Regions from separate parts of the Homo sapiens genome. Here region 2 is linked to region 1. The links come from fine-mapping of genetic effects on gene expression. A gene starts in region 1. The other region holds a variant in brackets. All regions are shown on one strand. Distances are from middle to middle. Region 1 holds the start of CCDC88A (coiled-coil domain containing 88A). Region 2 has its middle 6.6 kb from the start of MTIF2.

Region 1 (4,400 bases):
TACATTAGCGTACTTAGAATACACGTATGCTACAATAGCTGTAATTAGATAAAAGCTGAGTTTTAATTTTACTGATCCAGCTACCAATATACTTTCACTATTCAATTCCCATCTCAAAAGCATACTTTCCTACTTAGTACAAACCCAATATTATAAACACAAAAGACAAAGATTTGCCCAATAAGTCGTTATCTAATTGTTATCAAGACTTGTTATTTGCATTTCAAAACCTGTAAGAATACCTTAAAATGATCCCTAAAATATTAAGCAACCTAATAATTCACACAATAAATCATCTCATCAGGCTTTAGTTATTACAGGCATTTAAATTATTTACTACAGCAAGAGTCCTCACCAATCAGAACTGTTTGAAATTTTCTCTTCTGAAATCTGCTATTACTTAACGAGTTTCAAATTTTGAGCCATTTATTTCTAGATATAAAGGTTAATAAGAAACATTTCTGCATCAAATGCACATAACTTCACAGTAAAGTCTTTTTTCCTCTCTTAGGAAACCAGATTCTCATTTTCTCTCTTATTTTACCAAATTATCAAAGAATACACAATGTGGCTTGGATTTCAGTACTGAAGACAAGTGACAATACATGGTTGACAGAATGAAAAACTAAAGTTTCACAATTTTAACAGGTAAAATATCTAGGTTGTGATAATGGGCTGAGCCCATAACATTAGCATTCCTTTCAAGATCCAATTCTTAAACCACCTGAATATTTCTGGCCAATGAACCAAATTAGGGGCTTAAAACATCGTGTCTCAAAGTTCACCATATGCTATTTCTCAAAGAAAACGTTACCTAGGAAAGAAGGAAGAACTTACATTTGGAGCATGACCTGGTTCAAGAATACCCCATCCACCAAAGCCACATATTCATCAAGGTTGGTCCCATTTCCTGCGGCCAGAGGTCCAAACGTTTTAACCTAGAACAAACAGAAGGATCACCACGACATGAACGCCCACCTCCATCTCTGCAGCCACAAATAACTCAGCAAAATATACAATAAAGGACACCCCACTTACCCAAGTGACCAAAGGGCTGGTCATGAACTGCTCCAGAAGGGGAGTAAAAATTTCGTTCTCCATTTTACAGAGTATGTATTTGAAAAAAGGAACTACCACAAAAATACGCCTAGGGAATTGGTCACTAAACGTGGAAGTAAGTAGAAATCAATGAAAGTCCATTTCGGCAAGGGAGAAAAATCCCATCGTGGAGGAGGGGGGCACTCTCCCTCCTCAAAAAACACCCCAGAGTGAAACGAGCCGAAATCCCAAGAAGTGGCTTCGACGACGGACACCACGAGCAGCAGCCTGCGCTGGAAATGTCTGTACCGGGCGAGGAGGGGCAGAGAAAAGGCATCTGGAGGAGGAGGAAGGGAAAGGGGGCTGGAACCCAAGACAAAAAGCCCGTCAAGGTTGTCCAGCTCCTGGAGGATCCAGACCAGCGAAACTGCTCCCAATGAATCAATCCCAACGGGGGCTAAATGAAATACGTTAAACAGAGACCACGTTAAGGATACCGAGGCGCCACCAGACTCGACCTCGGCGTTCCGACCTCTACACGTTCCACCCACCGATGGGCATGGAGCCGCTTTCGACCCGCGGAGCCTCCACTGCCCGCAGCCCCTCAGTACCAACAGGCAGGGCTCGCCCCTTCCCCCCGAGCAGACACCATTCCTCCGCCGCCCTCAAGCCTCGCCTCCAGCCCCCTTCCCCTCCCGGGGGTGGGGGCTTGAATGTGTGTCCCTAACCCCCCAGCTTCCTAAGCCCTGCCAGCCTTTCAGCGCGTCTCTGGGAATCCCTGGCACAAAATCACCGCCGCGCTCCAGCCTTCTCCGCCCTCTATGGAGAAGCCGGAGTAACGGCCTCAGAACCGCAGTGCCGCATCACACCCCACCCCTCGCCGCCCGCCAGCGCCGCCCGCCAATGCCGGGGGCCGCCGTCAAAGGGAGCGCGCTGCTCCCTCCGCGCCGATATCCTTCCGCCGACTCCCCGCCCCTCCCGTGCAGCTGCCTCTGGATTGTGGGAGAAGAAAACCGCTGCATGAGCGCGCTCCCGAGCGAGCGCGCCCCCGGGCTAGCCTCGCCGCCGCCCAGATCCTGGCGGCGGGCGCGGGCTCGGGCGTGGGCGCGCGCTCGCTGCAGCTGCTGCGGAGACAACCCGCTCCTCGGTTGCGCCCAGGACGGTTGCCTGGTGGGCGGGGACAGGGAAGGCAGAGCAAGGGGTCTGTCTGCTCGCTCGCTCATGCCTAATTATGGTTTATTTCCTCCCCGAGTGACTTCTTTGATACGTGAAGGAAGGGGAAAGAAATCCTTCTCTTATAAACATGAGGGATGCAGACAGCCTTTTTCGGACAGTTTGATGTGTTCTGTAAAGCATGCCTTCTCCCCAGCAAAATGGAATAGGAAAACTCACTGCAGCAAATGGCAGAGGGACTTGAGCCACAACTTGGTGGGGGTTTTTTTCTCCTTTTTGTTTTCTTCCAAATGCAGTCCACTAACGCATGAATGTTCTTCAAAGTTGCAAGTGACATACAGTAAGATTTTTTAAAAACCAGAGCTGTCTGTCAGCACGTTGGTATTCCCTGACTGGAGCAAACATGACTCAGACATTGTTTTTTGGTTTTGTTTTGTTTTTTACTATTTGGGCATGGGTCGGGGGAAACCCAAGCAAAATCAAGAGCTACAAAGAAGAAACATTTAGAAGTCATCCAAGTTGGGTGACAAATAAACAGATTACATATTTGTCATAAATCTCCATGCCACGTACGACTGGGACCTTGAAATAATTTTAAGTTCCCTGGCAAAATCAAATGCTACTCCTCATTTCAAAGGAAAATAAAGACCTTTTTCCCGGGGTAAAATGGGCATATAGAACGCAATCTTTTTTTGATAAAAGATAATATTATAGTTTTATAATGTGTGCTATGTTTACATTACATAAATATTTACACGGAGTATATATTTTAAATTAGCAGTAAAAATGTTTTTGTCATAACACAGTTAAGAAAGAGCAGAATTTCTTAATTGGGTAGTTGAGAACCTGGACTCTGAAGTCTTCCTGCCTGGTTCCAATATGCACCAGCTGTGTGAGCCTACGCACGTTATTGAGTCTCTTTGTGCTTCGATTCCGTCACGTGTAAAGCAGGGCTAATAATAGGGTTAAATGAAATGGCAGCTTATAGTTAAGTGTTCTATAAATGTCATTAATGTTGTTTTTAACATTATTCCTTCAAAATAAAGAACCTTTATGAAAAACTTGAAATATAACCTCTCTGCTTCAGTTACAGGAGAAAGGATCTTGCTTTGAGGAGGGAACTAAATGCCCTTTGAAAATCATCTTAATTAAAATTAGGATGCATTCATGTGGCACTTTGCTAGGTGATGTACAAGTAGAACCTTGCATTTCCCTAGCCAGTACACAAGCCTTCAGACATCCTTGTTGCTAGCAATCTTTTCCATCTGCTCTTGATGACTTTTTAAAAAGCCTTTTAGAGATGGGAGTCTCACTGTGTTGCCCAGCCTGGCCTCAAACTCCTGGCCTCAAGTGACCCTCTCACCTCAGCCTCCCTAGCAGTTGAGACGAGACGTGTGAGCCACCACGCCTGGCTTGGTGACTCCTTCTTTTTTTGTTTGTTTTGTTTTCTGAGACAGAGTCTCTATTACCCAGGCTGGAGTGCAGTGGCACGATCTCAGCTCACTGCAACCTCTACCTCCAGGGTCCAAGCGATTATCCTGCCTCAGCCTCCCAAGTAACTGGGATTACAGGCACCCGCCACCACCCACTGGCTAATTTTTCTATTTTTAGTAGGGACGGGGTTTCACCACGTTGGCCAGGCTGGTCTCGAACTCCTGACCTCAAGTGATCCACCGCCTCGGCCTCCCTAAGGGCTGGAATTACAGGTGAGAGCCACCGCGCTTGGCCTGATAACTCTTTCTTAATAGCAGTTCTTTATTTGGCAAATGAAATACAGACAGAAGGAGAGTGGGCACCAAGGAGACAGCATTGCTTTCAGGAGCAGCCCAGTGCTTGACATACCCACTTTTCTTTGTAATCCCCCAGACGCTTGACAAAACAATATGGAAGTAATTATGCCTATACTGGGTTTATCCTAGGACAAATCAATCTGCTTCATTCATAGGCGAAAAACCAAAAAGTATTAACACCAAATACAGCAGGTTAGGGGCATTTTGAAGTGGTGACTGAAGGGTTAGCACAGGAGTCATACATTAAGATAGTATTGTTTATGCAATTTAGTACCCAGCCCTCACAGAAATCTGGATTCTTCTCTAGAGCCAGATGGCCCCAGATGCTTTCTGGTCTATCTTTAGGTTTTGCGCGCACACACACACACACACACACACACACACACACACACACACACT
Region 2 (4,400 bases), 140 kb before region 1:
AGAAAAGCACATTAGTGGGAAAACTGGTGAAATCTGAATAATGTCTGTAGTTTAGTTAACAGTAATACCCCAATGTTAATTTTTTAATTTTCACAAGTGTATCATGATTAATGTAAGATGTTAACAAAATTGGGTAAAGGGCACTTGGGAACGCTCCACTATCTCAGCAACTTTTCTGTAATCTAAAATTATTCCAAAATTAAAAGGTTGATTGCTGGGTGCGGTGGCTCACGCCTGTAATCCCAACACTTTGGAAGGCCGAGGTGGGTGGATCACCTGAGGTCAGGAGTTCAAGACCAACCTAACCAACATGGAGAAACCCCATCTCTACTAAAAATACAGAATTAGCCGGGCATTGTGGTGCACGCCTGTAATCCCAGCTACTCGGGAGGCTGAGGCAGGAGAATTGCTTGAACCTGGGAGGTGGATGTTTCGGTGAGCTGAGATCGTGCCACTGCACTCCAGCCTGGGCAACAAGAGTGAAACTCCGTCTCAAACAAACAAACAAAAAAAGTTGACTTAAAAAAGAAAGAAAGGGCCAGGCACAGTAGCTCACACCTGTAATACCAGCACTTTGGAAGGCTGAGGCCAAAGGATCACTTGAGGCCAGGAGTTTGAGACCTGGACAACATGGCAAGACCCTTCTCTACAAAAAATAAAAAAATTAACTGGGCATGGTGGTGTACACCTGCAGTCCTATGCTACTCTGGAGGCCAAGGTGGGAGGATCACTTGAACTCAGGATTTCGGGCTTACAATGAGCTATGATCATGCCACTGCACTCCAGCCTGAGTGACAGAGTGAGACCCTGACTCTAAAAGGAAGGAAGGAATGCAGGGAGGGAGGAAGGAAGGAAAAAAAGATGGAGAGAGGGAGGGAAGGAAGGAAGGAAGGAGGGAGGGAGAGATGGAGAGAGGGAGGGAAGGAAGGAAGGAAGGAAGGAAGGAAGGAAGGAAGGAAGGAAGGAAAGAAAGAAAGAAAGATATCCTAAAACACGCATAAATATACATACAGATACAATGTATATTGGTGGCTCAAGCCTGTAATCCCAGCACTTTGGAAGACTAAGGCAGGTGGATCACCTGAGGTCAGGAGTTCAAGACCAGCCTGGCCAAAATGGTGAAACCCCCGTCTCTACTAAAAATACAAAAATTAGCCAGGCGTGATGGCGGCTGCCTATAATCCCAGCTACTCAGAAGGCTGAGGCAGGAGAATTGCTTGAACCTGGGAGGCAGAGGTTGCAGCGAGCAGAGGTTGTGCCACTGCCCTCCAGCCTGGGCAGTAGGGCAAGACTTTGTCTCAAATAATAATAATAATAATAATAAATATACATATGCATACAATTTTATATAAATGGGATTTATACAATACATGCTGCCTTTTGCCTTTTCAACAATATATAATGGAAATTGGCCAGCTGCAGTGGCTCATGCCTGTAATCCCAGATACTTTGGGAGGCCAAGGTGGAAGGATCACTTGAGGCCAGGAGTTCAAGACTAGCCTGGCCAAAATGGTGAAACCCTGTCTCTACTAAAAATACAAAAATTAGCTGGGTGTGGTGGCATGTACCTGTAGTCCTAGCTACTTGGGAGGCTGAGGTGAGAGGATTGCCTGGGAGGCTGAGGTTGCAGTGAGCCAAGATCACGCCACTGCAATCCAGCCTGAATGACAGAGGGAGACCCTGTCTCACAAAACAACCAAAAAAAGGTGTGAACTGTGTAACTTTGCAGATTATTGGTATTTATTCTAAGGAATACATGAAACAATTATGCATATATGTGTATATATGTGTGTGTGTGTATGTATATATGTATATATATGTATATATATATACATATATATGTATATATATATATACATATATATGTGTATATATATGTATATATGTATATATATGTATATATATGTACATATATGTATATATATACACA[C/CAT]ATATATATATATTCACCTAGAGAGAGAAATACACTTATAGCCTTATTTGTAATTATATTGAAAATTTGGAAATAACTAACATTAGGTCATTGGACATTGGATATTTCCAAATTTGGAGTTGGATACGTAAATGGAATATTATACAGCCATTATAAGTAATAAAGTAGATCTGTTGACATGGATACTTAGATGAAAACAGAAAAGCAGATTATAAAATATATAATTCTGTCTTGATCAGAAAAATTAGAAATAAATAGCATTACCAGCCTGAGCAACATAGGGAGACCCCCATCTCTACAAAAACTAAAAATATACAAAATTAGCTGAGTGCAGTGGTGTGTGCCTGGAGTCTCATATACTTGGAAGGCTGAGGTGGGAGAATTGCTTGAGCCCAGGAGGTCAAGGCTGCAGTAAGCTGTGATCATGCCACTGCACTCCACCCTGGGCAACACAGAGCAAGACCTTGTCCCAAAACAAACAAAACAAAACAATCTTTTAGAAATAAACAGCATTAGAGTATATACATTATGTGTCCAATGTGAATATTTTTATATACCTGTGATTTAAATTTTTGTATCTTCATATGTGGTCTAATTTTTTTTAACAATCTATATATATGTTGTTAACTTGTCTTTATTTTTAAAGCGTAGTATTAAAACATTTATTTAAAGAAATAGGGGGCTGGGCTTGGTGGCTCACGCCTGTAATCTCAGCACTTTGGGAGGCCGAGGCGGGCGGATCACGAGGTCAGGAGATCAAGACCATCCTGGCTAACACGGTGAAACCCCATCTCTACTAAAAATACAAAAATTAGCCAGGCGCAATGGCAGGTGCCTGTAATCCCAGCTACTCAGGAGGCTGAGGCAGGAGAATTGCTTGAACCTGGGCAGCAGAGGTTGCAGCGAGCCGAGATTGCATCACTGCACTATAGCCTGAGTGACAGAGAGAGACTGCATCTCAAAAAAAAAAAAAAAAATGCATGCAACTTGTTAGAAAAGACACTATTTTATGTTTGGGAAAAATACTGAATATGAGTTTGTTTTTAATTGAACTGGCCCTTTTTGTTCTTAAAGCCAACACATTCCAAAATATATTTATTGACATTTACTCAAATCAGTATTTACCATCAATAAGTAAATCCATCCAGCAGGGATAGAGGAATAATATGTGATTTCTGATCTCAACTTAATATTTTTATTAAAATTTATGCAAATATATATTACTTGCAAGTTAATTAAGGCATTAAAATCATAGGAAACTTCTCTTGGCCAGTAAGACTAGGACAGAAATTCCAAAGTAGTTCCCACAAACCTAATCCAGTTGAAGCAATCACTGAAATGCATGACTTAAAATATCCGTAGTCCATACATGCAAAGTAGGAAAAGTACCTCTGTTACAGCACTTTTGTATGGAAGTCAGTTTTCTTGGGTTGCTATGAGAACCACCTGCAGACCATGTAATAATATTGAATATATGGCCAGGTGTGGTGGCTCACGCCTGTAATCCCAGCACTTTGGGAGGCCAAGGCGGGTGGATCACCTGAGGTCAGGAGTTTGAGACCAGTCTGACTAACATGGTGAAACCCCATCTCTACTAAATACAAAAATTAGCCAGGCGTGGTGGCGGGCACCTGTAATTCCAGCTACTTGGGAGGCTGAGGCAGGAGAATTGCTTGAACCAGGGAGGTGGAGGTTGCAGTGAGCTGAGATTGTGCCACGGCACTCCGGCCTGGGTGACAAGACTCCGTCTCAAAAAAAAAAAACAAAAAAGGAAAAACAAACAAGCAAAAACCCCTGAATATGTGGCTGTATTCATTAATTTAGTGGTCTAGGTAGACCCAGAAAATTAAGTCTGATTTAAAGAACAACTCAGGGCAGGTCTTGTTCACCTGACCTTCTTCTGCACGCTTCCTGAATTGCAGTAATTGTGGCTCTCAGGAGTTACACATTGGGAGTTTACAACACAGCCTGGGCTCGGCTGTGTCTTCTGTAAACAGTGCTTGTCCAAAGTAAAGCTTCCTTATAACCACACAATTTTAAATGGGTGTTTTAAAGTGAACAAAAAAGAAAAAAACATGCTCCTTCTCTGCTTAACCCAGTTGTCGTCTACTATGTAGATTTTGTTCACATTGCATGAAACCAGTGTTTTCCCAGGCAAGCAAGCAATGTGTTCATCCATTTTACGGTTTAATTAGAAAGAAATTACATTCCATATAACCAGTTAACTGGTTATTACCTTTTTTTTTTTTGAGACAAGTTTCACTTTTTCCTTTCTTCCTTCCTTCCTTCTTTCCTTCCCACCCTCCCTTTTTCATTTCTTTTTTTTTTTCTTTCTTTCCTTTTTATTTTTTGACTGGGACTACGGGCATGCACCACCACGCCCGGCTAATTTTTGTATTTTTAATGGAGGCAGGATTTCACCATGTTGGCCAGGCTGGTCTCGAACTCCTGACCTCAGGTGATTCGCCCT

Evidence for each region.
Region 2: its variant is fine-mapped to the expression of CCDC88A in whole blood (INTERVAL, PIP 0.99).

Annotation. Positions count from the first base shown.
Region 1 is chr2:55,417,979-55,422,378 of GRCh38, forward strand. It overlaps CCDC88A (coiled-coil domain containing 88A), which reads right to left and starts at 1,878. Exons shown (of 33, transcript NM_001365480.1): 1 at 1,039-1,878; 2 at 838-938. The coding sequence starts at 1,101. RefSeq lists silencers at 1,779-1,848, 1,879-1,928, 1,989-2,278.
Region 2 is chr2:55,273,624-55,278,023 of GRCh38, forward strand. No RefSeq gene overlaps it. Among named protein-coding and RNA genes, the nearest start is that of MTIF2, 6.6 kb to the left of the region's middle. The variant C/CAT (reference allele first, on the strand shown) is at 1,931.